Regions from separate parts of the Homo sapiens genome. Here region 2 is linked to region 1. Evidence: fine-mapped expression QTL. A gene starts in region 1. The other region holds a variant in brackets. All regions are shown on one strand. Distances are between the middles of the regions. Region 1 holds the start of PLAU (plasminogen activator, urokinase). Region 2 has its middle 15 kb from the start of C10orf55.

What was found. PIP is the estimated chance that this variant, and not a neighbour inherited with it, causes the effect.
Region 2: its variant is fine-mapped to the expression of PLAU in left ventricle (GTEx, PIP 0.97).

Annotation. Positions count from the first base shown.
Region 1 is chr10:73,904,235-73,916,656 of GRCh38, reverse strand. It overlaps PLAU (plasminogen activator, urokinase), which reads right to left and starts at 5,525. Exons shown (of 11, transcript NM_002658.6): 1 at 5,439-5,525; 2 at 5,045-5,132; 3 at 4,589-4,616; 4 at 4,335-4,442; 5 at 3,559-3,733; 6 at 3,276-3,367; 7 at 2,899-3,118; 8 at 2,529-2,677; 9 at 1,741-1,881; 10 at 1,258-1,406; 11 at 1-268. The coding sequence starts at 5,101. The coding sequence ends at 92. C10orf55 (chromosome 10 putative open reading frame 55) reads left to right here. Exons shown (of 5, transcript NR_160938.1): 2 at 16-138; 3 at 3,582-3,614; 4 at 4,373-4,457; 5 at 4,562-6,688. RefSeq lists enhancers at 2,263-2,816, 2,427-3,626, 7,245-7,294, 6,544-7,494, 6,850-8,049 and a silencer at 4,979-5,578.
Region 2 is chr10:73,931,714-73,944,135 of GRCh38, reverse strand. No RefSeq gene overlaps it. Among named protein-coding and RNA genes, the nearest start is that of C10orf55, 15 kb to the right of the region's middle. RefSeq lists enhancers at 3,272-3,431, 11,702-11,751, 10,986-12,185 and silencers at 11,892-11,941, 12,062-12,121. The variant C/T (reference allele first, on the strand shown) is at 6,202.

The DNA.
Region 1 (12,422 bases):
AGTCTCTTCTTACAGCTGATGGAGATGACTCTACTGCAAAAATGACAACCAGCAAGAAAGCGGGTGGTGCCCGTTTCCTCCCTGGGGACCCTCAGAGGGCCAGGCCATTCTCTTCCTTGGTGTGACTGCGGATCCAGGGTAAGAAGTGTGAGACTCTCGTGTAGACGCCTGGCTTGTCCTTCAGGGCACATCCACGGCCCCAGCTCACAATTCCAGTCAAAGTCATGCGGCCTTGGAGGGAACAGACGAGGGGTCCCCCTGAGTCTCCCTGTGACGCCAAAGATACAAAAGATGAGCCCTAGAGAAGTGAGGAGGGGATTTCTGATCCCATCACCCAACCATACCAGAGAGAGGGAAGAGTTTCCCAGTCAAAGTCCTTAGCGACTTCCCATTTTCTTTCTTTTTTTCGGGGGGAGGACAGAATCTCGCTCTGTCGCCCAGGCTGGCGTGCAATGACGTGATCTCAGCTCACTGCAAACTTGCCTCCTGTGCTCAAGCGATTCCCATGTCTCAGCCTCCTGATTAGCTGGGATTACAGGCAGGCACCACCACACCTGGCTAATTTTTTTTTGCATTTTTAGTAGACACAGGGTTTCACCATGTTGGCCAGGCCGGTCTCAAACTCCTGGCCTCAAGTGATCCATCCACCTCGGCCTCCCAAAGTGCTGGGATTACAGGCATGAGCCACTGTGCCTGACGCAGCCCCATTTTCTACCACATCAAGTTTAAAATCCCCTGCTTGGCTTTAAAAGCCCTGTCATCTGCCACTATTCCATCCACACTCCCAGACCCTAGTTCTCCTCCCCACCCGGAATATGCCAGCCTCCTTCTCAGTTTTGTATCTTTCAACTGAAACACCTTCCTTTCTTCCCTCTGCCTCTTCAAATGCCTATCAAGTCACATTTCCTTTAAAGCCTCCCCTCCCTGACCCTCAGGTTGGCACTCACCTCCCTCTCCTGAACACCTGATCATTTATAGTTCACAACACACCCTGGGCACTGAGTTACATTGTCTTTTACTGTTTCCTCTTTCTAGGATCTCGTGCCCCCAGTCTGAAGTGACTAGCGCAGAGCTGGGATTTTTTTGGTAATGTCTGGCAAACACATAAGGACTGGTTTAAACCCTCAAAGACCTGAGCTCCTGATTCTGGCTACTTAGGGCTTTGGCTAGAGAGAGACACCCTTAAGCTGGCTGGAACAAGCCCAGGAGCTCTGGGGAGATATGGAAGAGGTGGAGAGAGATGCTTGGAACACTCACCTGGCAGGAATCTGTTTTCCACTGTGGGTCAGCAGCACACAGCATTTTGGTGGTGACTTCAGAGCCGTAGTAGTGGGGCTGCTGACACTCCCGGTGGGAAATCAGCTTCACAACAGTCATTTTCAGCTGCTCCGGATAGAGATAGTCGGCTAGGTGGAGAAAACAGGGAGGCGTTTGCATCAAGATTTATCTGTCCACTGGGAGTCTGCCAGAGAGGGGAACCATAAAGTATCTCTACCAGGGAAGGCCCTTATTCTCTTCCATGCAAATCTGAGCCTTTACTCCACCTATAGCCCCTACCATCTATTTACCTTTGCAGCCCATCGCTCCCTAAACAACACTCTTCATCCATCCCTGGACCCATCTGCCACCGCCTCAGTGCTCCCACCTCTAACTCTGCAGTCTTCCCTTGATCACGCTGGGCTCATTTTCAGGTCAAAACACTCCTCAGGACCTTCTAAGTCAGTCGCAATTGTCACTTACTAGAATTCTCTTTTCCAAAGCCAGTGATCTCACAGCTTGTGCCAAACTGGGGATCGTTATACATCGAGGGCAGGCAGATGGTCTGTATAGTCCGGGATGGCTGCGCACACCTGCCCTCCTTGGAACGGATCTTCAGCAAGGCTGGGGGAGGACAGAGGGTCAGAGGAGAAAGATCACTACTGGTTAGGCGGTCCCCATCTGTCCCCTCCAAGTGCCGAGGAAGTAGCTATGCCTATCCCTAGGTCAGTCATCCAGGGAGGTCTGCTGGTCGCTTATCACCTGGAAACCTCCCCTGCCCCATGCCCCAAGGGCTTTGTTCCAGGTGTTGAAAAAGGCTTGGATGGCCAGAGCCACTGCATACAGCTGTACAGGTCGTTTCTGCAAAAACTCCCAGCTGAGGTAGTTAGGCTGGAATCCATCCCAAGGCTCCATTCTCCAAGTTCTATATCCTAGCACAGACAGAGGCTGCATCCCACAAAGGAAGGTGTGTCTTTTTCTAATTCATATAAACAGGGCCTTCCCAGCCCAAGCCATATACCCACAGGGCTGTTTCCACTCGCAAGAGGCTACTTGTTGGGGAAATTCAGGGTCTCTCCAGAGGAGCACCAGGCCCCTCAGACTTCATGGAACTCTTCCCTGCCACTCCCTTTGTCATGTATATCGAGGCTTCAAGGTCCCTCGCCCCACCCCTGCCCCACCGGGCAGCTTCAACCTCAGCTCCAGTCTCTCCCTGGGTCCCACTCTCCCCAAGCCATTATGGCCACAGTAGTCGCGGGGTTCCCCCTCACCAATGTCGTTGTGGTGAGCAAGCGTGTCAGCGCTGTAGTCCTTGTGTAGGATGAGGTTTTCCACCTCAAACTTCATCTCCCCTTGCGTGTTGGAGTTAAGCCTTGAGCGACCCAGGTAGACGATGTAGTCCTCCTTCTTTGGGTAATCACTGTGGGAGAAGATACCCATCAAACAGCTTAGTCCCATGAAATCTGCCACTTCTTCCTTCCCTCCCTAGAGGCCTCAAAGCACGACTTGTCCCCAAGGCCATGGGCTGCATGGACAGGGGCAGATGAGGGAGAAATGAGGCGGAACACTTTGCTGGGAAGGAGAAAGGGATGTGCTTGGGGTGGGGCAGAAGAGTCGAAGAGGAGAAACCCAGGGCCGTACATGAAGCAGTGTGTGGCGCTGATCACCCAGCAAGGGCTGATGAGGCTGCCTCCACACACGTAGGTGACAGAGCCCCCCCGGTGCCTCCTGTAGATGGCCGCAAACCAGGGCTGGTTCTCGATGGTGGTGAATTCTCCCCCAATAATCTTAAAGCGGGGCCTCAGAGTCTTTTGGCCACACTGAAATTTTAATTCTTCTGGAGGAGAGGAGGGCTTTTTTCCTGGAGGACAAACAGAGGGATGTCTTAGGGAGGCAGGTAGGAGAAAGCATCCCTCTCGGGCACCCCCCACCTCCTCAGTCCTCCTGTGATGGAATAAGGGGACATGTAAGTTTGTCCCCTTCCACCCCACTGTCATCAGCAGGTCAGTGATGCTCACCATCTGCGCAGTCATGCACCATGCACTCTTGGACAAGCAGCTTTAGGCCCACCTGCACATAGCACCAGGGTCGCCTCCGGTTGTCTGGGTTCCTGGCAACACAGAAAGATAGGGGATGTCATTCCAACCCAGAGGGCCTTCCCTGCCTCCTCCCCTCAGGGAAGACTCAACCAGAGGCCGCACTTCTCTTGTGCTATGGCCAGCCCTCTGGGAGAAGGGGATGGTAACAAGGTTTCTGGGAAGCTGTAGGGAGGGCTTTTGGTCCTTGTTGCCCCCACCTCACCTGCAGTAATTATGTTTCCCCAGGCCCAGCTGAAGAGCATCAGATCTGTGGGCATGGTACGTTTGCTGAAGGACAGTGGCAGAGTTCCAGGGCAGGCAGGGCCGGCCCATGGTGTCAGTGCTGGCCTTTCCTCGGTAAAAGTGACCATTCCCCTCATAGCAGGTTTTTGACTTATCTACAAGGGGACAGGAGGATGAGAGAATATGAGAAAGAGAAGAACATTCCAACTAACTTTTATTTTTTTTTTTTGAGATGGAGTCTTGCTCTGTCGCCCAGTTGGAGTGCAGTGGTGTGATCTCAGCTCACTGAGATCTCTGCCTCCCAGGTTCAAGCAATTCTCCTGCCTCAGCCTCCCAAGTAGCTGGGACTACAGGCATCCACTACCATGCCAGGCTGATTTTTGCATTTTTAGTAGAGGCAGGGTTACACCATGTTGTCCAGGCTGGTCTTGAACTCCTGACCTCAAATGATCCACTCACCTTGACCTCTCAAAATGCTGGGATTACAAGCGTGAGCCACCATGCCCGGCTGCCAACGGACATTTTAAAGATGTCGTTTCAGACCTGCCAGAAGACTGGACAGGGTCTCCTTCCAACCCCACCTCACATTTGTGTGGCCACTGTTTCGTGAGCGTGTGTGTGTGTTTATGCTTGTCACATAGGGATGAAGATGTCACCCACCCTACCTCCAGCTCCTAACTCCTGCCTGCTCTTGCCTCCCACCCATCCCTCCCTGTCCCCAAATTTCTCTCCCAGTTGCAGTGGAGATCCCCATACCTATTTCACAGTGCTGCCCTCCGAATTTCTTTGGGCAGTTGCACCAGTGAATGTTGGAGAAGTACTTGTTGGACACACATGTTCCTCCATTTAGACAGTCACAGTTCGCTGGAGAGAACAAAGGTGGGGTAAGCGAGGGGGAGTGGAAGTGGTAAGGGGTGGCGCAGCCCTGCAGCAGAGGGCAGGGAGGGGATGTCCCCTGAAGCCTTCCCAACTTGTCTGTGCAGCCAACTGTTGTAGGGGTGGATACTCACATGGAACTTGATGAAGTTCATTGCTGCCCTGGAAGAGATTCGGGAGGAGGCTTCATCAAAGGTCCCATGCTCCAGGGACTCCAGGGTGAGGGTAAACTGGCCCCAATCCCAAAACCCACTCTTCCCTCTCCCTCTCGCCTCACCCTGTTCGTATCTAGTTCTCAAATGGAAGACCATGGGTTTCCAGCCAGGAGAAATGGATTGACCCAAGCAAGCTTCATCTACCAGATGCCCGCAGGCTGGGGCAGTCCCGGCGGCCTCTTCCTCCCTTGCCAGCCAGTGCCAACCCCCGTGGTTCTCAAGCCTCCGCTGCCACCCTGTCCCATTTCCTGGGGAGAGTCTGGCCCTGCTGTGGATGGAATCCGGAGGACCCCAGCTCCCTGAGCAGCCCCTCCTCTCCCCTGGTGCTGATCAGAGGTCCTTGGGCAGCATCAGTCAAAGCAAGAGCGCACTCACTTTGGAGTCGCTCACGACCAGGACGCAGAGAAGCAGGCGCGCCAGCAGGGCTCTCATGGTGGCGAGGTCGGGGCGCTAGACGGCGGCTCTGCAAAGGAAGGAGAAGTCAGGGCAAGAGGCGGAGGAACGGGAAGGCAGGCCAGGCGGGCGACTGCAGCGCAGGGGAGATGCCCGCGGTGACCAGGCTCCCCAGCTGTCTCTCTCCTCTCTGGGCTCCGGACTCCGGGCAGCCTGGATCGGCACCCGCGGGGGACGCCCGGGACGGGGCGCCTTGACTCCGTGCAGCCGCCGGGGAGCCCAGGGAGCCCGGGCAGCCCAGGGCGGGGGAGGCAGACGCTCGGGAGCTGGGGCCGCCGCGCATCCGGCCCGGGGATCTCAGGACCGCGGCACTCACCGGTGGCTGCGGCAGGAGGGCGCGAGCCGGCGCTGCGGGGACAGGTGGACCCTGGCCCGGGCTCCGGGGCTGCGGTCTCCGCACTGTGCTGCGACCCGCGGCGCCTGCTCTATATCAGGGCCCGCCCCGGCGCCGCCCCTCCCTCTCCCGCCCGGCTCCCTCCCCTGTCTTGCAGCGCTCAGCGACCCGGACCCCGCGTGCTTCCGCAACGCTCACAAAGATTTGGGGGAAGCGCGATCTCCAGCGGAGGGGACCCAACAGCGTCTGGACTGAGGAATCGAGAGGCTTGTAAATTCTCCGTGCTTCCTCCCATGCACCTGGCCGGGGGCCTGCCCCAGTGCAAGGAGTCCCCGAATTGCAGAGAGGAGAGAAGGCGCACAGGAGACTCTCTACCTCGCCCAGCTCTGAAGCCTCCTGGGGTCCTCTAATCAGTTCTTCTGCAACTTCTCCCCGCTGGGCCCCAACTTGCCTAAGACTGCCTCAGACCCCCTTGCCCGCAGCTGATGGAGCTGTGAAGTCTTCATCAACGCGACAAATGTACGAGACATACTCTCCCAGAAGCACAGACAGAAAAACCCCTGCCTGTAGGGGCTCCCTCTGTGCGTCTGTTCAGTGGCAGTCCCCAGATATCACCAACACAACCAGTGGATGGAACAAAGCCGGGCTTATTGCTTTCGGCAGTAAGGGGGTTTGTTTGATGGTGCTATCAGAGGGGGAAAGGCAAGGCCAGATTACTGAAAATTTGCAGCTTGGTTTAAAGTCCGTTTTTGACAGGGCTTGATAAGGATTGGGTTAGGTGTCGTGATATGATGTTACAGGATTGTGGGAACAAAGTCCTAGGGCATAAACTGTTGGTGCTTCCTATTGAAGTGTTAACGGGTCTTTTGGGAAGTTTCCATAATGAGCAATTCATTTATTTGTGCAGGCAAGAATAAAAGTAAAGACAATGGAAACATGTAGACAGTTCTAACTGTGGAGGTTCTGGAGGGTGTGGAAGTTCTGTTCTCACCTCTGAGTAGAGGAATTGGGAGACTGGAGGACAAAATAAGAGGAAGATTTATTTTTCACTGTTTGTCCTTTTACACTCTTAACATTTTAAAAAGCACATCTCTGTATAGCCCATTCCAAAAAGATAATTATGCATTTTTTAATGCATGTGTATTTAGTGTTTTACTTCATCATAGAGCCTTGTTTATTCTATTCAGATAGAAACAATTGTTTATCAAATAAAATTGTCCTCCAGAAAAACAGACCATGTGTAAATGACTGCATCCACCCTTCCTGCCTGAGGATAAGCAGACATTTGTGTATACACACACACACACACACGCATCTCTGGGCACACTTGGAGGAACATAGCAGGGATTCTGTGATTCTGTCACCCCCATCTCTTTCCCCTAGTGTCAGGAACCAGGGCTTGGGGTCATTTTGAACCCAGTAGGACTCGCTCTCTTAGTGGGAAGGAGGAGGCTGAGTCCCAGCAATCCACTAGCGGCTTTGGGCCCTTTCCCAGCCTAGGCCTGCAGCATTTTCCTGCCTTGCAAATCTGGACCTTGGGTCTGGGTCCACCTGAGAGTGACAGAAGGAAGGCAGGGAGAGTGCCAGGAAGGTAGGAAGGAGGAAGGCTCCTTTGCTCTGCCCCAGCCGAGGGCTCAGGGTGCCAGCTGCCTGCTGGGGAAAGTACAAGTTAGCCTTTCAGCTTTTGGGAGGCAGGTGACCCACTGTCTTCTGGAGAGACTTCTGTGCTTGCTGAGCTGCCAGCCTTCCAGGGGACAGACTGAGTCAGCGATGCTATAGGCTTCAGAGCCAACCTTGCTACTTCCTCTAGAAGACTGTGGTCAGTTTTGTTTGGATTTGAGAACCCATTAATTGTAAATAAACGTGACCAGAACATAAACAGAGATGCTGCAGCCTGAGGACTTACCCCGAAACTCCCAGGTTAGTTATCAGGAAATTCCCAGGGACCGTCATGATTCATGTTGCTCCCCTAGCAGCTCTCATGACTCCAGATTACTTGGCTGGAGGCTGTCATGCTGATTGCTGAGAGCAGATGACTTCATTTCCTCCTGGACAAAGAGGTTTGGAGACCGTTATGAAGCGTGACACCCTTTCTCCCCTTCCGCCCCCTCCTCCCCCGTGCCACCTCTTCACCTAGCACTTCAACTCTTCACAGAACTTCCTTATCCATGCGCTAATCTTTAGCACTCTCTGAAATCTTTGTGCACAGTTCTTTTTTTTTTTTAAAGACAAGGTTTTGCTGGGCTTCTGGGTTCAAGGGGTCCTCCCACCTCATCCTTCCAAAGTGCTGGGATTACAGGCATGAGCCACCACGCCCAGCCATATTTTTTTTTTTTTTTTTTTGAGACGGAGTCTCGGTCTGTCACCCAGGCTGGAGTGCAGTGGCACAATCTCGGCTCACTGCAAGCTCCGCCTCCCGGGTTCACGCCATTCTCCTGCCTCAGCCTACCGACTAGCTGGGACTACAGGCGCCTGCCACCACACCCGGCTAATTTTTTGTATTTTTAGTAGAGATGGGGTTTCACCGTGTTAGCCAGGATGGTCTCGATCTCCTGACCTTGTGATCCGCCCACCTCGGCCTCCCAAAGTGCTGGGATTACAGGCGTGAGCCACCGTGCCCGGCCCCAGCCATATTTTTTATATTGTATTTCTGTCTTGTGCTTCAAGGCACATTAATGTAAACCATTTCTCTTTAAACTCATAACTGCCTTATGATATAGACTGGTATTGTTGTTCCCATTTTGCAGATATGGAAAATGAAGTGGAGAGAAGATACACAGTTGATGAGCAGCAAAGCCAGCACTAAAACCCAGCGTCTTCTGATCCTTGTTCCTATGCGCTATACCTCACTGTCTCCATAAAAGACAGAACGCTGTGAAGGGAGGGGCCAGTGAGCTAAGATGATCCAGCTCAGGGGAGCCCTCCTCCTGACTTTGGAGACCTCCTTCCAGAAAGACTGCTCGGACTATGGACTCTGAGCTCTTAAGTTGCACCCGCTGTAATACAAATTAGTTGTTTGCCTGAATTCCAAGAACTGTCTCTGTGGTCTAGGCTGTCTGAAATTTCTGTTGAGGGTAAGAGAATAAGGAACTGAATGTGTATGATTTCATTCTTTTCCTGACTCCTAGGGTGAAGCCACCAACCCCTGCCTCTGTGTCTCAAGGGTACAGAGCTCCTGAGTCAGATGTGGCAACACAGACTGCTGGAGAAGCCCTTTCCAGGAGATTCTCATAAAAGGGAAGGCAGATGCCAGATGCGCAGGGAGGGGCAGGGTATCCAAACCTGGCCCTGAGACTAAGTCCAGGAAACTCAGCCCCTAAGGACTATTTTCTGACCCAAAAGGAAGTTCCCATGGAGTCATAGGATGCAATTCTGTGTTGTATATGAAGAATGCTCAGCATGGCACTATAGAAAGACCACAGTGCCTAGCCTTCAGTCTGCTACATCAAAGTTGAATGATCTTAGGCAAGTTGCTTAACTCTTTTTTTTTTTTTTTTTTTTTTTGACGTGGAGTCTCGCTCTTGTCACCCAGGCTGGAGTGCAATGGTACAATCTTGGCTCTCTGCACCCTCCACCTTCTGGGTTCAAGCAATTCTCCTGCCTCAGCCTCCCAAGTAGCTGGGATTACAGGTGTCTGCCACCATGCCGGTCTAATTTTATATTTTTAGTAGAGATGGGGTTTCACCATGTTGTCCAGGCTGGTCTTGAACCCCTGACCTCAGGTGATCCACCTGTCCAGCCTGTGCCTCACTCTGCAGATTGGCTGAGATCATGCTTGCATGTAAAAGTATTCATTCATTCCATATTTATCATGGACCTACTGTGTGCTGGGCGCAGTTCTGGATGCTAGAGATAGGAAGAGGAACTGTGTAAACTGTAATTCCTACATCGAGTGCCTGCCTCCCCTTTTTGACTGTGGCTGGATTGACTCAGAAGACCAAGTCAGGCTGGAGTCCATTCCAGGATTCCAGGCCAATGGGGATGCTGTATCCTTGGCCAGCAGTTCCCAGCAATCAGGCAGCTGGACCCACAGCTGCATGTGCTGTTCACTCCCACATTGCCTATGCTTACTCCCTCTCCCTCTTGTCTGTGTCCCTGTGTGGCCTGAAGCGCCTCTTTCCCTCCTACACATGGGGCAGACGGACTCTTCAACAGTTCTGGGAAGGAGGTACGGAATGCTGGTCACATAGCTTCCTTGAGTCTAAGGACCCCTTCTTCCTGAGTGTCTAGTGTGAAGGGTGAAGCCAGCTGGCAACGGCAGGCACTGAAAGCCGCTTCTGGGCATGTAACATGATAGGGGGATTGCTGGAGCTGCAGGCCCCCAGCAGGCTGTGGAAGGGGTGGAGGGAGGCAGCATTCTTGCTTCCTTACTCATGGAAAGCAAAGAGCCCAGGGGCTGAACCCTGAGGTTACACTGTCGTCAGTAGCACCATGAAAGGGGAACTAAAGCTGGTCCCTCCAGCATCAGGCTATGACCCCCCTAACCTTCCTCACTCTTTTTCTGCCTTACCAGCTCTGGCCTGCTTCCTAGGCCTACCCAGGCCACTCAGCTCAGACTTCTGCATGTATGTCATGAGTCTTGGCCAAATTTTTCTTTGTCCCTCCCTGACCCAAACCCAGTTATTACCTAAGTCAGGAACTTACTGCTTTAAAGTAGTTTGCCAGGTGTGGTGGCTCACGCCTGTAATCCCAGCACTTTGGGATGCTGAGGCGGCTGGATCACTTGAGGTCAGGAGTTCGAGACTGGCCTGGCCAACATGGTGAAACCCCGTCTCTACTAAAAATACAAACATTAGCCAGTGTGGTGTCACACGCCTGTAATCCCAGCTCCTCAGGAGGCTGAGGCAGAAGACTCGCTTGAACCCGGGAGGCAGAGGGTGCAGTGAGCCGAGATCGGGCCACTGCACTCCAGCCTGGGTGACAAAGCGAGACTCCATTAAAAAAAAAAAAAAAGTAGTGTTGGTCATGGCTTACCAGACCTTCTGGATTCTGAGCCCCTCACCAGGAACCAAAGTTAGGCCCTGGTCCTAAAACTTCTGCTCAGAGTTCTGGTTACCATGTTGGGTGGCAATAGATGCTTAACTAGAAGCAAAGGGGCATGCCCAGGAACAAAGGACTGGGATGACTAACCAGCAAATGGTGGGCTTGCTGAAGACTGCCAAAAAATCAATAATATTTAGGGATATATGTTCAGCCAGAAGCTGAAATACTGAAAAAATCCTATTCAGAAGAAAACTAACATAATATTCATAACCCATATGATGTCTAATTCCACATGCTCATGGCTCTCCCAAGCTGGATTCTATGTGCTGGATTCTATATGCATCTCTGTCTTCAAAGCAAGCACTTCCCCTTCCATTACACAGAGAGGAAAATAGAGGCTAATGAAGGGAAGTGAATCATCTGAGTTCATTCACTAAAAATGATGAGATTCAGGATTCACAGATTTTGAGGAACTTCATGACACATTTCCACCCTCTCCTTTCTTATTCTGAATCCTCAGCTCCTCCCTTTTCCCGATCACCATCCATCCCCATCCTCAATCTATCTTGCCCACCCTCCTGCAGAAGGTGCTTCTTTTCTCTGGTTTGCTGAGCCTCTGAGGAGGGTTTGGAGGCAGCCACGTCCTGCAGAGGGGACAGTCTCCTTTGAGAAGGCTGCTAGAGGACTAAATGTATGAATATCTGTGGGAAGAGGGAGCAGGGATCCCTGGAGGCAGGTGTGTGTGCAGAGTGAATGGGAGGAACAGTATGTGGGTAATCTACATGGGCGTTCTTTGTTTACTCTGGAGACAGTGATGGTGGGGAATGTGGCAGGGACTAAAGAAAAGGAAGAGTGCCAGATGCAGTGGCTCACACCTGTAATCCCAACATTTTGGGAGGCCGAGGCAGGAGGATGGCTTGAGCCCAGGAGTATCAGACCAGTTTGGGCAACATAGTGAGACCTCGTCTCTATAATATATTTTTTAAAAATTAGCCAGAAGTGGTGGCACACACCTGTGGTCCCAACTACTCAGGAGGCTGAGGTGGGAGGATTGCTTGAGCTTGGGAGGTTGAGGTGGCGATGAACCTTGATCACACCACTGCACTCCAGCCTGGGCAATGAGACTCTGTCTCAAAAAATAAAAATAAAAAAGAAGTCTGTTGTCTCCAAGGGGACAATACAATCTTACAATTTATCCCTTGTTAAAGATAGATAATAATAATAATAACCAACTTTTATTTGCATTACATTCATTTTCTTTTTACATCTTAACACCTTTAAGGAAGGTACTATTAATGTCACCATTTTATGGATGAGAAAATGAAGGTTCACTGGGCTTAAGCAATTTCCACAAGGTTAAACTCCAGGGAAATGGAAGCACCAAGACTCACATGCAGACCTGGTTGACTCCAGGTTTGGAGAACTATCTCTGAGGCAGTATCAAATTCAATCAGGCTAGTGGAGGTGCTTGTCCTTCTAACTGGGAATCTTCCTACTTCTAACCCATGGTGACATCCCAGGATAGCTCCAGCTGTCCATCCAAGTCATGTCTGCCTTGATTCCTGCCTGCCCACCTTGAACCAGACTGATTAAAGTGTTCTTCCATTTGTCTAATGTAGCCAGCCACAGTTGTGTCTGCTGGGTCTAGTCAGAGAAGTGATCACTGGGCCTTCTGGCTGTGCTTATATATCTGTGTGGACTCCTGGAACCACCCATAGCCAGTCTTCCTTTTCCACAACTATTCACCCATATTTATATGATGGGGATACTCTAGGGTTCTTCTATGGGGAAATAACAATAGCATCTATTTATTGACAATGGCTTTTATTTAGCAGGCACTGGACTAACAGTTCTGTATGCATTATTTCATTTGATCCTCAGTGAAGGAGATGCAATATCATCCCCACTTTATGGATAAAGAAACTGAGGCACTGAGAGGTTAAATAACTTGTCCAAGATCACACAGCCAATACCTGGCAAATC
Region 2 (12,422 bases), 27 kb before region 1:
CTTGGCTTTATTTATTTATTTATTTATTTATTTTGTAGACACGGGGTCTTGTTATGTAGTTGAGGCTGGTCTGGATGTCCTGGGCTCAAGCAATCCTGCCTCAGCCTCCCAAAATGCTGGGATTACAGGTGTGAGCCACTGTGCCCAGCCAAGGTTGGGCATCTCTTCACACACTTGCCAGCCATTCTAATTTCCCTTCTGTGATTTCTGACTTTATTCTTTGCTCACTTTTCCATTGGATTTCTGGCCTTTTTCTTGTTGATCCCCAGGAGTTTCTTGAGCATTCCAGATATTAATCTTGTGTAGCTTTAGACATTGCAAATCTCTTCTTCTGAATGGAAGAAATCTGCTTGGAGGGGGTTTGAGCTCACTATCAGGAAATTAATATAATTCATTTGCTGAGATCCAGCCTCTCCTGCTAAATCTCTTGAGTCCCAATCACCCTCCCTAATCTAAGAACAATTAAGCTATTCCCCATTTTTCTAACCCATTTATGGAAAGTAGTGTTTGGGGCCAGTGTGGTGGCTCACACCTGTAATCCCAGCACTTTGGGAGGCTGAGGCAGGGAGATCTCCTGAGGTCAGGAATTCGAGACCAGCCTGGCCAACATGGTGAAACCCCATCTCTACTAAAAGTACAAAAATTAGCCAGGCATGGTGGCACACACCTGTAATCCCAGCTACTTTGGCAGGCTGAGGCAGGAGAATTGCTTGAACCCGGGAGATGGAGGTTGCAGTGAGTTGAGATTGGACCACCACACTCCAGCCTGGGTGACAGAATGAGACTCAGTCTAAAAAATAAAATAAAATAAAAGTAGTTAGTTTGGGTTTATATGTCTAAGCTGTCCTCCAAAATATCCATTTTGATTGCTGTATTACTCAGGATAGTGATGGTTTGTGGGAGGAGGGAGGGTTGTGATTTGAACAGTGCACACAGAAGGTTTTCTGGGGAGGCTGGAAAATTTTTTTATTTTTTTCTTCTTTGAGACAGGATCTCACTCCAGTTGCCCAAGCTGGAGTGCAATGGCACAATCTCGGCTCACCACGGCCTCAACCTCCCGAGCTCAGATGATTCTCCTACCTCAGCCTCCTGAGTAGCTGGGACTACAGGTGCACACCACCACGCTTGGCTAGTTTTTTATATTTTTAGTAGAGATGGGGTTTCGCCATGTTTCCCAGGCTGGTCTCAAACTCCTGGACTCAAGTGATCCACCTGCCTCGGCTTCCCAAAGTGCTGGGATTAGAGCCATGAGCCACCACGCCTGGCCTTATTTCTTAATCTGGGTGGTTTTACCTTATAATAATAAATTAAGCTATACATTTGATTTGTGTGGTTTTCTTTTCTATGCCATGTTTTACAATAAAAGATTAAAATATATGTCCCTCAGTTACCTTTCATTTTCCACTGCTCTTCAGTTTGCAAGACTAAAATTCATTTTTCTTTTTGAGACAGAGTCTTGCTGTGTTGCCCAGGCTGGAGTGCAGTGGTGCGATCTCGGCTCACTGCAACCTCTGACTCCCGGGTTCAAGTGATTCTCCTGCCTCAGCCTCCCAAGTACCTGGGATTACAGGCGCGCACCACCACACCCGCCTAATTTTTGTATTTTTAGTAGAGATGGGGTTTCACCATGTTGGTCAGGCTGGTCTTGAACACCTGACCTCGTGAACCACCTACCTCAGCCTCCCAAAGTGCTAGGATTACAGGCGTGAGCCACTGCGCCCGGTCCTAAAATTCATTTTTCAAAACAATCTAGTTTCTCCCCGAGTCAAAGCAAACCTGATTCCCAGACATAGACTGCTCTGAAAATGGGCTTTTTCAATTACTACAAATCGGATATTCCCCTTTATTGTCCACCAGTAAAACTGACCACCCTCTGGTGGCTGAATCCACAGCCATGGCAAGGGTCTGGGCAGTCAACCTGTCAGGCCAATGCCGGGCCTGAGAGTGGAGGAGGGTAGGACTCAGGGACCTCTGAACCTGCTTCGTGAGCCTAAGGGCTTAGCTTGGCCACGGTTCCCTATTAATAGGCTCTGGGTCATGTACAAAACAAGAGAAAGATGACAGAATCTGGGAAGGCTGCTACCACTAGCGACCTAAGGACTCAAAACTTCACACACAAATATGAAGAACCATATATAAAGAAGTGGCTATGGCTGGGAGTGGTGGCTCACACCTATAATCCCAGCACTTTGGGAGGCTGAGGTGGGTAAATCACTTGAGCCCAGGAGTTCAGGACCAGCCTGGGCAACATGGTGAAACTCCACCTCTGCTAAAAGTAGCAAATATTAGCCAGGCGTGGTGGCACACACCTGTAATCCCAGCTACTCGGGAGGCTGAGGTGGGAGGATCACCTGTGCCCAGGAGGCGGAGGTTGAAGTGAGCCGAGATGGTACCACGGCACTCCAGACTGGGTGACAGAGGAAGACCCTGTCTCAAAAAAGAATTTAAAAAAAAGTGGTCATATATAAAAAGCTGCTTTTTCCAGTTTAAAGTTTCCATTTGCAATACATTGGATGAGAATGGGTGAAGGGGCGCCAGCAAGCTGTGGTGGCATAAACTGCTTGACTCACAGTGACTAAAACCTCTGTCTATTTGAAGTGAGCCTTTGCCAGACCCAAAAGGCTCTATTTTCCAAATCACCTGATACCACCTTTGGTCAAGGCACTAGCCATGGCAGCTGCACTAAGCCACAGGCTCCCATAAGCTATTTTTATCTCAAATACTCACTAGGACCCACTGGGTAACCAGTATGCTCAGGGAAAGGTTTGGGGCCCTGAATCCTACCTTCCACCCCAGAGGGATAAAGACCATGAGGACGGTGAGGAAGCATTTTTATTAAATGGTTGATTGAGGCTCCTGTATGCCCTCAGAACAAGGCTTTTCAGTAAAAGCAGGTCAGAGAATTTGACTTCGGCCAGGAGGTCTTAGCAAGAAATCCTGCTCCCTCTTTCTGAATCAGAGTTCATGACCCCAACCAGCTGCACGGAGGAGGATGGCTGCCCTGCTCAGAGAGGCCAGGCCCTTTATGGTCACCACGTGGAGCCGGGAAGGAGAAGAGAAGAAATAGGGTCATGAATTCCCACCCAGCAATCGGACATTTCCCTCCCTGGGCTCAGCAGTCTTGCCCTCAGACCTGGACTTGCCCCCTTCCTCAGCAGCACTTTCAGAACAATCCCTTAGCCCACAGCGTGGCAATAAACAACCGTGCGGTAAACAGAGCTTGTCTTCTTTGAGTCCCCTTGAGCCCAACGTCTTCGTGCTGCCCACCAGGCCACCCCCACGCAGTGTCTCCTACTCCAGCCAGAGCTCGGGGCACCGCCCCATCCCGGGTCGCCTTTCACCGCCAGCCCAGCAGGGGCCGCCAGAGCGATGCAGATGAAGCCAGAACCGCGCCCGGGCCGCGGAAGGAAGACTCCCACGGGCCGCCCTCGGTTCTTGACGCTCAGTCCAAGTGCCCAGTGGGGACAGGCGCTCTCAGGCTCCGGTTTGGAGCTCTCCTTACCCTTCTCAGAGGTGAAGACTGAGCCAGACTCCTTCCGTTTTATTTTTATTTTGTATTTTTTGTAGAGACAAAGTCTCACTTTGTTGCCCAGGCTGGTCTCAAACTCCTGGGCTCAAGCAATCTTCCCGCGTCGGCCTCCCAAAGTGCTGGGATTACAGGCGTGAGCCACCGCACCTGGCCCCGTTTTATTATTTTAAAAAATGTTGGCCGGGCGCAGTGGCTCACGCCTGTAATCCCAGCACTTTGGGAGGCCGAGGCGGGCGGATCACGAGGTCAGAAGATCGAGACCATCCTGGCTAACATGGTGAAACCTCGTATCTACTAAAAAATACAAAGAAAATTAGCCGGGCGTGGTGGCGAGCACCTGTAGTTCCAGCTACTCGGGAGGCTGAGGCAGGAGAATGGCGTGAACCCAGAAGGCGGAGCTTGCAGTGAGCCCAGATCTAGCCACTGCACTCCAGCCTGGGCGACAGAGCAAGACTCTGTCTCAAAAAAAAAAAAAATGTTTATTACTTCCCTTTCAAAGCTCTAGATATAGATAGATACAGATTTTTAATGCCAAAACAAAGTTACTGAAAGTGTGGTATATCTCAAATGTGTATACTTAGCAAGTCAAAGCTGTGACCCCCACACCCAAATAAATAAATAAATGAGTAAAAGAAAGCCAGGCATGGTGGCTCACGCCTATAATCTCAGCACTTGGGGAGGCTGAGGCAGGAGGATCACTTGAGTTCGGGGGTTCGAGACCAACCTGGGCAACAAAATGAGACACCATCTCCACAAAAAATACAAAAATTAGCTGGGCATGGTGGCGCATGCCTGTAGTCTCAGCTACTTGGGAGGCTGAGGTGGGAGGATCACTTCAGCCCAGTAGGTCCAGGCTGCAGTGAGTGGTGATGACCCACTGCACTCCAGCCTGGGTGACAAAGCCAGGCCCTATCTCAAAAAAAGAAAAAATGCCCAAAGCTGTATTTTGTATTTTTTGTAGAGAGAAAGTCTCACTTTGTTGCCTAGGCTGGTCTCGAACTCCTGGGCTTAAGCGATCTTCCTGCGTCCGCCTCCCAAATTGCTGGGATTACAGGCGTGAGCCACCGCGCCTGGCCCCGTTTTATTATTTTATTATTTTTTTTATTTATTATTATTTTTAAAAATGTTGGCCGGGTGTGGTGGCACACACACACACACACACACACACACACACACGCAGAGAGAGAGAGAGAGTTGACGAAAAGAGTCAAACTGTGTAAAATATTTGAAGAGATTTATTCTGAGCCAAATATGGGTGACCATAGCTTGTGATACAGCCCTCAGGAGACCCTGAGAACATGTGCCCAAGGTGGTAGGGGCACAGCTTGGTTTTATACATTTTAGGGAGGCATGAGACATCAGTCAACACATTTAAGATGTACATTGGTTAGATCCAGAAAGGGGGGACAACTCAAAATGGGGAATGGGGTACAGAGCCTTCAAGATTATAGGTAGATTAAAAAATTTTCTAGGCCGGGTGCAGTGGCTCATGCCTGTAATCCCAGCACTTCGGTAGGCTGAGGTGGGCAGATCATCTGAGGTCAGGAGTTTGAGACCAGCCTGGCCAACATGGCAAAACCCTGTCTCTACTAAAAAATACAAAAATTAGCCGGGCGTAGTGGCAGGCACCTGTAATCCTAGCTACTCAGGAGGCTGAGGCAGGAGAATCATTTGAAGCTGGGAGGCGGAGGTTGCAGTGAGCCAAGATTGCACCACTGCATTCCAGCCTGCACTCAAGACTCCATCTCAAACAAACAAACAAAATTCTCATTGGCAATGGTTAAAAGAGTTATCACTAGAATGAAATATCTAGGTTATGATAAGAGGTTATGGAGACCAAAGTTTTATCATGCAAATGAAGCCTCCAGATAGCAGGCTTCAGGAGAGAATAGATTGTAAAGGTTATTTATCAGACTTAAGGTCTATGTTGTTGTTAATGCTGGTCAGCTTTTCCTGAATTCCAAAAGGCAGGAGGGCATTATGAGGCAGGTCCAACCCCCACTTCCCCTCATGGCCTGAAAACAGTTGTTCAGGTTAACTTTGGAGTGGCCTGGCCAAGAGGAGGGAGTCTCTTCAGATGGTGGGGGTAGCCTTAGATTTTTATTTTTGGTTTACAACAAACACACACACAGAGTCCCATACACACATATGTGTATATATACATATATAATGCAACATAACAGAGCAATTCACAAGCCATATGAAGATAATGAGTTTACAGCACACCATAGGGCTGGTAATGGTAGCAAGTTTAGGATGCATGTCTTCACCTGATCCCGCACAGTGAGGCTGAATGTAGCTCTGACAGGTGTGTGACCCCACACATTTAAGGTCTGTATCTGAGGCCCTACATAATCTGAGGCCTTAGCCAAATGCCCCCCCGCAGTCCACTGCCTACTCTCCACCCCCATCCTCATGGTCCAGGCCACCAAGAAATATTATACTCAATGAAAAGTGGAGAAGAAGCCAGGGAGTCCAAAGTTACTGGGCCTCTTCCTCCAGTTCCCAACTTGCCACCACAGTAGAGAAAGACTCTCAGCTGGCTTGGGGAACACAGTTGGACAGCGAGGAGGCAGCTTCTCTGTTCCTGGGCTGCTCTCTGTATCAGCCTCCACCCCAAAAGTCTCCACCTTGGTCCATTATCCCCTCTCCTTAGGCCCCAGAGCCTCTTC[C/T]TGTGTTTGTGTTGTTTTTGTCAGAGCAGGAAGTCTTCCTGGAAATCCACCAGAAATCCAACATCCTCCTCCTTCCCCAGGGGACCCTGGCCTTAGGCATACACCCCACCCCACCTCAGCTCTGGCTGAGGCACAAGGCCAGAATCACAGGAATCCATCTTCCCAGGAACCCTGCCTTGCCCTCAGGCTCTGCGTCAGCCCCATCCTACCTCCCCACACTGCAACACTAAGAGCAGCAACTCCCTGCAGTAGAAAACAGCAATAAGGGAGAAAAAGCTCGTCATTTCTAAAGGAAATGTGAAAAACACAGAAGTGTACACAGAAGAAAACCACCATAACCTGGATGTCCACTATGCCGCTCTTTTTGGTATCCCTTTTCCACCAGAAGCTGACAGCTGAACCATGACTCCCCAACCACATCTGCACACATGCACAGGCTCTCCAGCTTCTCCTCCTTGTTTGGCTGTCAGAATCCTCACCTCATCTAGTTGGTGTGGGAGAGGATAAGGCTAAAGTGAGAATGACCGACTGTGTTCACTCTCCTGTGTTATAGACTAACAGCTGAGGGTATCCTTGGAGTCCATGAAATACCTGTCCTGCTAGATGCTCCTGGAAGAGGGAGTTCTGAGATCATCTATGTTGGGAACACCATCTACACGGCCCCATCCTGTATCCATCAGGTTGAAGTCCAAAAAGTGCTAAAAACTAAGTTTTAAAAAATAACAGGCTGGGTGCTATGGCTCATGCCTGTAATCCCAGTACTTTGGGAGGCCGATGTGGATGGATCACTTGAGGTCAGAAGTTTGAGACCAGCCTGGCCAACATAGTGAAATGCCATGTCTACTAAAAATACAAAAATTAGCCCAGTGTGGTGGTGTGTGTCTATAATCCCAGTCACTAGGGGGGCTGAAACAGGAGAATCGCTTGAACCCAGGAGGTGAAGGTTGCAGTGAGCCGAGATCACACCACTGCACTCCAGCCTGGGCAACAGAGCAAGACTCCGTCTCAAAAAACAAAACAAGACTTAGGGGTAAAACCTGACCTAAAATGATGTTGTGGCTTTTCAGATTTTTTACTTAGCCTACTTAGTATGAAGATGCATATGTTTTGCTGCAGAAGTATGTGCTTGATTACAGGGCCTGCCAGCTCTTCTGGGTGCAATGGAATAAATAGTGGAATAAATAGCATATTCACCATTTACCTTATTAAAACCTGAAATATTCTGAAATCCAAATATATCTGGTTCCAAGGGTTTTGGGTACTGGATTGTGAGCTGACTAAGTTCATTGTATGGATGTTTAACCTGTTCAAAGCATATTAAGCCTTGTTGTAGACAAGAAACTAACCTCACATAACATTCTCCAAATTTATTTGGCTACAAACCCCTTTGTTCCACTTGCTACCTATAAATATATCACAAAATTGCCATGTGGACCCTTGGGAAACATGGAATGTTTCGAAGACTTTAACTCTCTAATAGTGAGTTTTCAGATGTAGAAAAAGGGTAGATCTTCCAGAGGGCTCTTAGATCCCAGGCCCTAAGACTGGGCAAGGTGAGAAGCTGGTATAGGGATGACTGAGGCAAGCCTTTGATGGTTTACATGGGCCCGGGACAGGGCCATGACCTGCTGGAAAACCTAATTAAGACAGACACATATGTCAAACCAGAGAATCAAATCAGAAAGCCAAACAAAAATCAGGAGGAAAACAGTTAAAAGTTGAGCTAAAGATCAGAAACTAGAAGATTTTCAGGACTTAAAGCGCTCAGGGCTCTACGTTCCCAACAACAATGAATCTCTGAGACTAAGCCAACTTTCGCCTCACCCTGTGAGCTTTTATAAGCTTCCTGGAAAGATCTGCACCCATTCTGTAGTTTGCAGGTAGAAAGACAAGTGAGAGCTCCTGGTTAGCCTGTTAAATCCCTGAAGAGGCAGCTGGGACCCACCTAATGTCCTCTCTTGATGCAGGAGAAGGTATTATATTCAGGTACAATATTGAGGGACTTGTGAGAAGAGCAGATTCAGGCAACAAGCATTTGAATCCATTCTTTGGGTCTCCAGTTTCTCTGCTGCTGATGTTACAATTCTTTGAAATCATGCATTGACCAAACGTGTTGGACTTGGGTCCCATGTCTCAGCATGATCAGAGCAGGGTGCCCTGGTCTGGCAGAATATGCTGGTGAGGAGTTGGACATCTTGGCTGGTACCCCTTAACAGTCCCGGACCTGAGAGGTGGCAGGAAACCCCTCAGAATTAGTTCTGGGTAACTCTAGGGAAATTCATTAGCAGTTTCCTCTGGGCTCTTAAGGCTGGTGCTTGGAAGCAGCAGGAACGTCAGGAAAGGATGTGCTGTGTCCATCCCAGGCTTTACTGGAGCTGACTCCTGTCTCTTGCTGCTATAAGTACAGTATTTACAAGGCCTTTAAAAAATGTCTCTTCCTGCCCGGGCATGGCAGCTCACACCTGTAATCCCAGCACTCTTTTTGGGAGGCCAAGGTGGGTAGATCACTTGAGCCTAGGAGTTTGAGACCAGCCTGGGCAACATAGTGAGACCCTGTTGTCTCTATTAAAAATATAAAAATTAGCCAGGCATGGTGGCACACACCTGTCAGCTACTCAAGAGGCTGACATGGGATGATTGCTCCAGCCCAGGAGTTCAAGGCTGCAGTGAGCTATGATTGCAGCACTGCACTCCAGCCTGGGCAACAAGCAGGCAAGACCCCATCTCAAAAAAAAAAAGAAAGAAAAAAGAAAAAACTCCCTTCCAAAATTCTCACGCTCACCCCTTGACTACCTCTCTGTGCCTGCCCTCTACAACTTATTCTCTAGGATTTCTCAGTTGTGACGTTGATATTTTGAGCATCCTACATTGTAGGATGTTAGTTACCTATGAGATGCCAGTAGCATCTTCCCAGTTGTGACAACCAAAAATGTTTCCAGACACTTTCAAATGTCTCCTGAGGGCAAAATCACCACCCTTATTGACAACAACCACTGCTCTATCTGAATGGGGAGGTCGCATGGCAGACAGTGCATGTCTGGGTGAGATCCCCACTCTCCCTGGGCTAGCTGTGCCCCTAGACATTTATATTATTCCATTTGTGACCCTGTAAGATTTTCTACTAAATTTAACCTCTTTGAGCCTCAGTTTCCTCACTTACTTACAAAACATTAAATAGAAAAAAATGATAGTAGGCCAAGCACGGTGGCTCACGCCTGTAATCCTAGCACTTTGGGAGGCCGAGGCAGGTGGATTACCTGAGGTCGGGAGTTCAAGACTAGCCTGGCCAACATGGCGAAACCCTGTCTCTACTAAATAAACAAAACATTAGCCGGGTGCAGTGGCACGCACCTATAATCCCAGCTGCTCTGGAGGCTGAGGCAGGAGAATCGCTTGAACCCGGGAGGCAGAGGTTGTTGTGAGCCGAGATAACGCCACTGCACGCCAGCCTGGGCTACAGAGTCAGACTTCGTCTAAACAACAACAACAACAACAAAAACAAAAAACAAAAAGAAAAAAGAAAAGAAAAAAATGATGGTAAAAATCTCAGGCGCTTTTTGGAAGTGTTAAATGAGCTAATGCATAAAAAGATTACAGTGCTTGGCAAAACAGCATTCCAATACAGGTAGATTATTAACCCCTGTCCCCCAGGGCTTCACACCTGTTCAAGGTGACCACTAACTGACCTTACATTAGCTTATAAAATACTCTATGATCTGACCTTACCTCTGTGGCTTCATTCTTCCACACACCCTCTCCAAACTCAATACTCCAGACATGTTGACTGCTTGCAGTTCCAAGGAAGCAGTCAAGTTTTATACGGCTCCTGCAGTCTTTGCGTATGTTGTGCTGTTCCCTGTGCCTGGAGCTCTCTTCCCCTCCGACTAACTCCTGGTCTCAGCTTGGATATCACTGGGTCCAGAAAGGTCTTTTCTCCCCAGGTCTGGGCAGAGGAGCCTCCTTTGCAATTCCCTGGTGTCTGCACTTCTCATCATCACGCTTCTGACACTGCGTGTTCATTGCCTTGCTGTCTGTCTGAATTGCTCTCCCAACTGGGATCGCTGTGAGGCAAGGGATGCTGTTTTGTAGACGCTGAGTCTCCAGAATCCAGCACAGCTCCTGACATCATCCTATAGAGATTCCGTAATTCTTGTCCAGTTAAGGACGAACTGTACGAAGTGCTTAGCACTAATATGGAAAAGGACTCTCTTTTTATCTTCCTTCCCAGGTAACCATGTTTTATTCTTTCCATTTGAGTAGGTAGTACTTGCAAATGGAACACAATTTAAAAGTGATCAAAGGATATGTGGAAAAGAGTAGTAGCAATTTTCCTTCCTGGAGGTCACTACATTTCTGGTTCGCCCGCAACCTTCCAGAGACAGTCCAACTGTGCATTTTATTTTTATTTTTATTTATTTATTTGAGATGGAGTCTCACTCTGTCACCCAGGCCGGAGTGCAGTGGTACGATCTCAGCTCCCTGCAAACTCTGCCTCTTAAGTTCAAGTGATTCTCGTGCCTCAGCCTCCTGAGTAGCTGGGATTACAGGTGCATGCCACCACGCCCAGCTAATTTTTGTGTTTTTAGTAGAGACGGGGTTTTGCCATGTTGGCCAGGCTGGTCTCTAACTCCTGGCCTCAAGGGATCCATCGCCTAGGCCTCCCAGAATCCTGGGATTACAGGCGTGAGCCACCATGCCTAGCCCCAACTATGCATTTTAAATGGAGCTTTCGTGATCTAGCGACTGGACTCTCCTAAGCACTACCCCACTGTCAGGTCTCCAGTCTGGGCAATCAGCAAAAGTCCTCCCTATTGCCCAAATCCCACCTTCGCTAGTCAAAAATAATAATAATTCACTGGGGCAGGAAATAAACTTTCAACTCTCCCTAAAGGGCAGCAGGGTAGGAAGTGGCAGGCAACAGAGATGAAGGCAAGGGGGAAGTCTTGTAGATCCCAGCACGCCCACCCTCAAGTGTCCTAGACTGTCTACACATACACACACACAGAGAGAGAGAGAGTGTGTGTGTAAAAGCAGAAGCTGTAGGAAGAAGATGCTCTAGGGGGACACCCCACCCCAACTTTCTTCTTTTTGAGAGGGAGTCTCACTCTGTCACCCAGGCTGGAGTGGTGCAATGGCACAATCTCGGCTCATTGCAACCTCCACCTCCTGGGTCAAGTGATTCTCCTGCCTCAGCCTCCTGAGTAGCTGGGATTACAGGCGCCCGCCACCACGCCCAGCAAGTGTTTATATTTTTAGTAGAGACAGGGTTTCACCATGTTGGCCAGGCAAAACTCCCCTGCAAAGCTCCCCTTCCCCCGTCACTACCTTGAGAAATCAAAGGGGAGCGTCAGGCCCAGCTTCGGGCTTCCTGCTCCCTCCCCAATGAGGGGAAGAGAACTTCAATGCTGAGTCATTTCCCATCGGGTTGGGCTTTACCTGGGAGTTTGAGTCACCATGCAGGTGTCGGGAGGGAGAGGTGCTGCCCAGCATGACACATCTGCCTGTTCAGGAAGGAGGTTAGCCACTTGGGGTAAGGCACTGAGGGTTCCAGGGACCACTCCATGTCTGACCCTGGGGCTAAGAACCCCTACTGCTCTGTGAGGGGTTTTACAGTCCCAGGCCAAAACCAAGGACTTAGGGGTGAAAATTAAGAGCCAGGGCTCCTTTGCTTGTCTAACACCTCTTCCCTTCGCTCTGCTTTCTCCCCTCCAACCCGCAGGCACCCAGCCATCCTGGGTGCATCTCCCAGCATCTCAGCTGGCGAAAACACAACCTTCCTGACAGGGCTTAGGTAAAGGCCCCACAGCTCCAGACACAATAAACAACGTCATTTCCCTTCTCCCCTCTGAGTTGGGAAGAAAATCCTAGACCTGAGGAGCACCAATGAGAGTCTGATCCCAAGGCAGCTTCAGGGGCTGCCCAAACCTTTTAGCCACACCAGGGGCTTCCTGGAGCTGAACAGCCCAACCCCAGGAGGCTGGACTCTAGATGGGGGATCCCCACCCGACTTTCTTTCTTTTTTTTGAGACAGAGTCTCGCTCTGTCACCCAGGCTGGAGTGGTGCAATGGCACAATCTCTGCTAACTGCAACCTCCACCTCCTGGTTCAAGCGATTCTCTTGCCTCAGCCTCCCAGGTAGCTGGGACTACAGGTGCCTGCCACCACGCCAAGCAAATTTTTGTATTTTTAGTAGAGACGGGGTTTCATCATGTTGGCCAGGC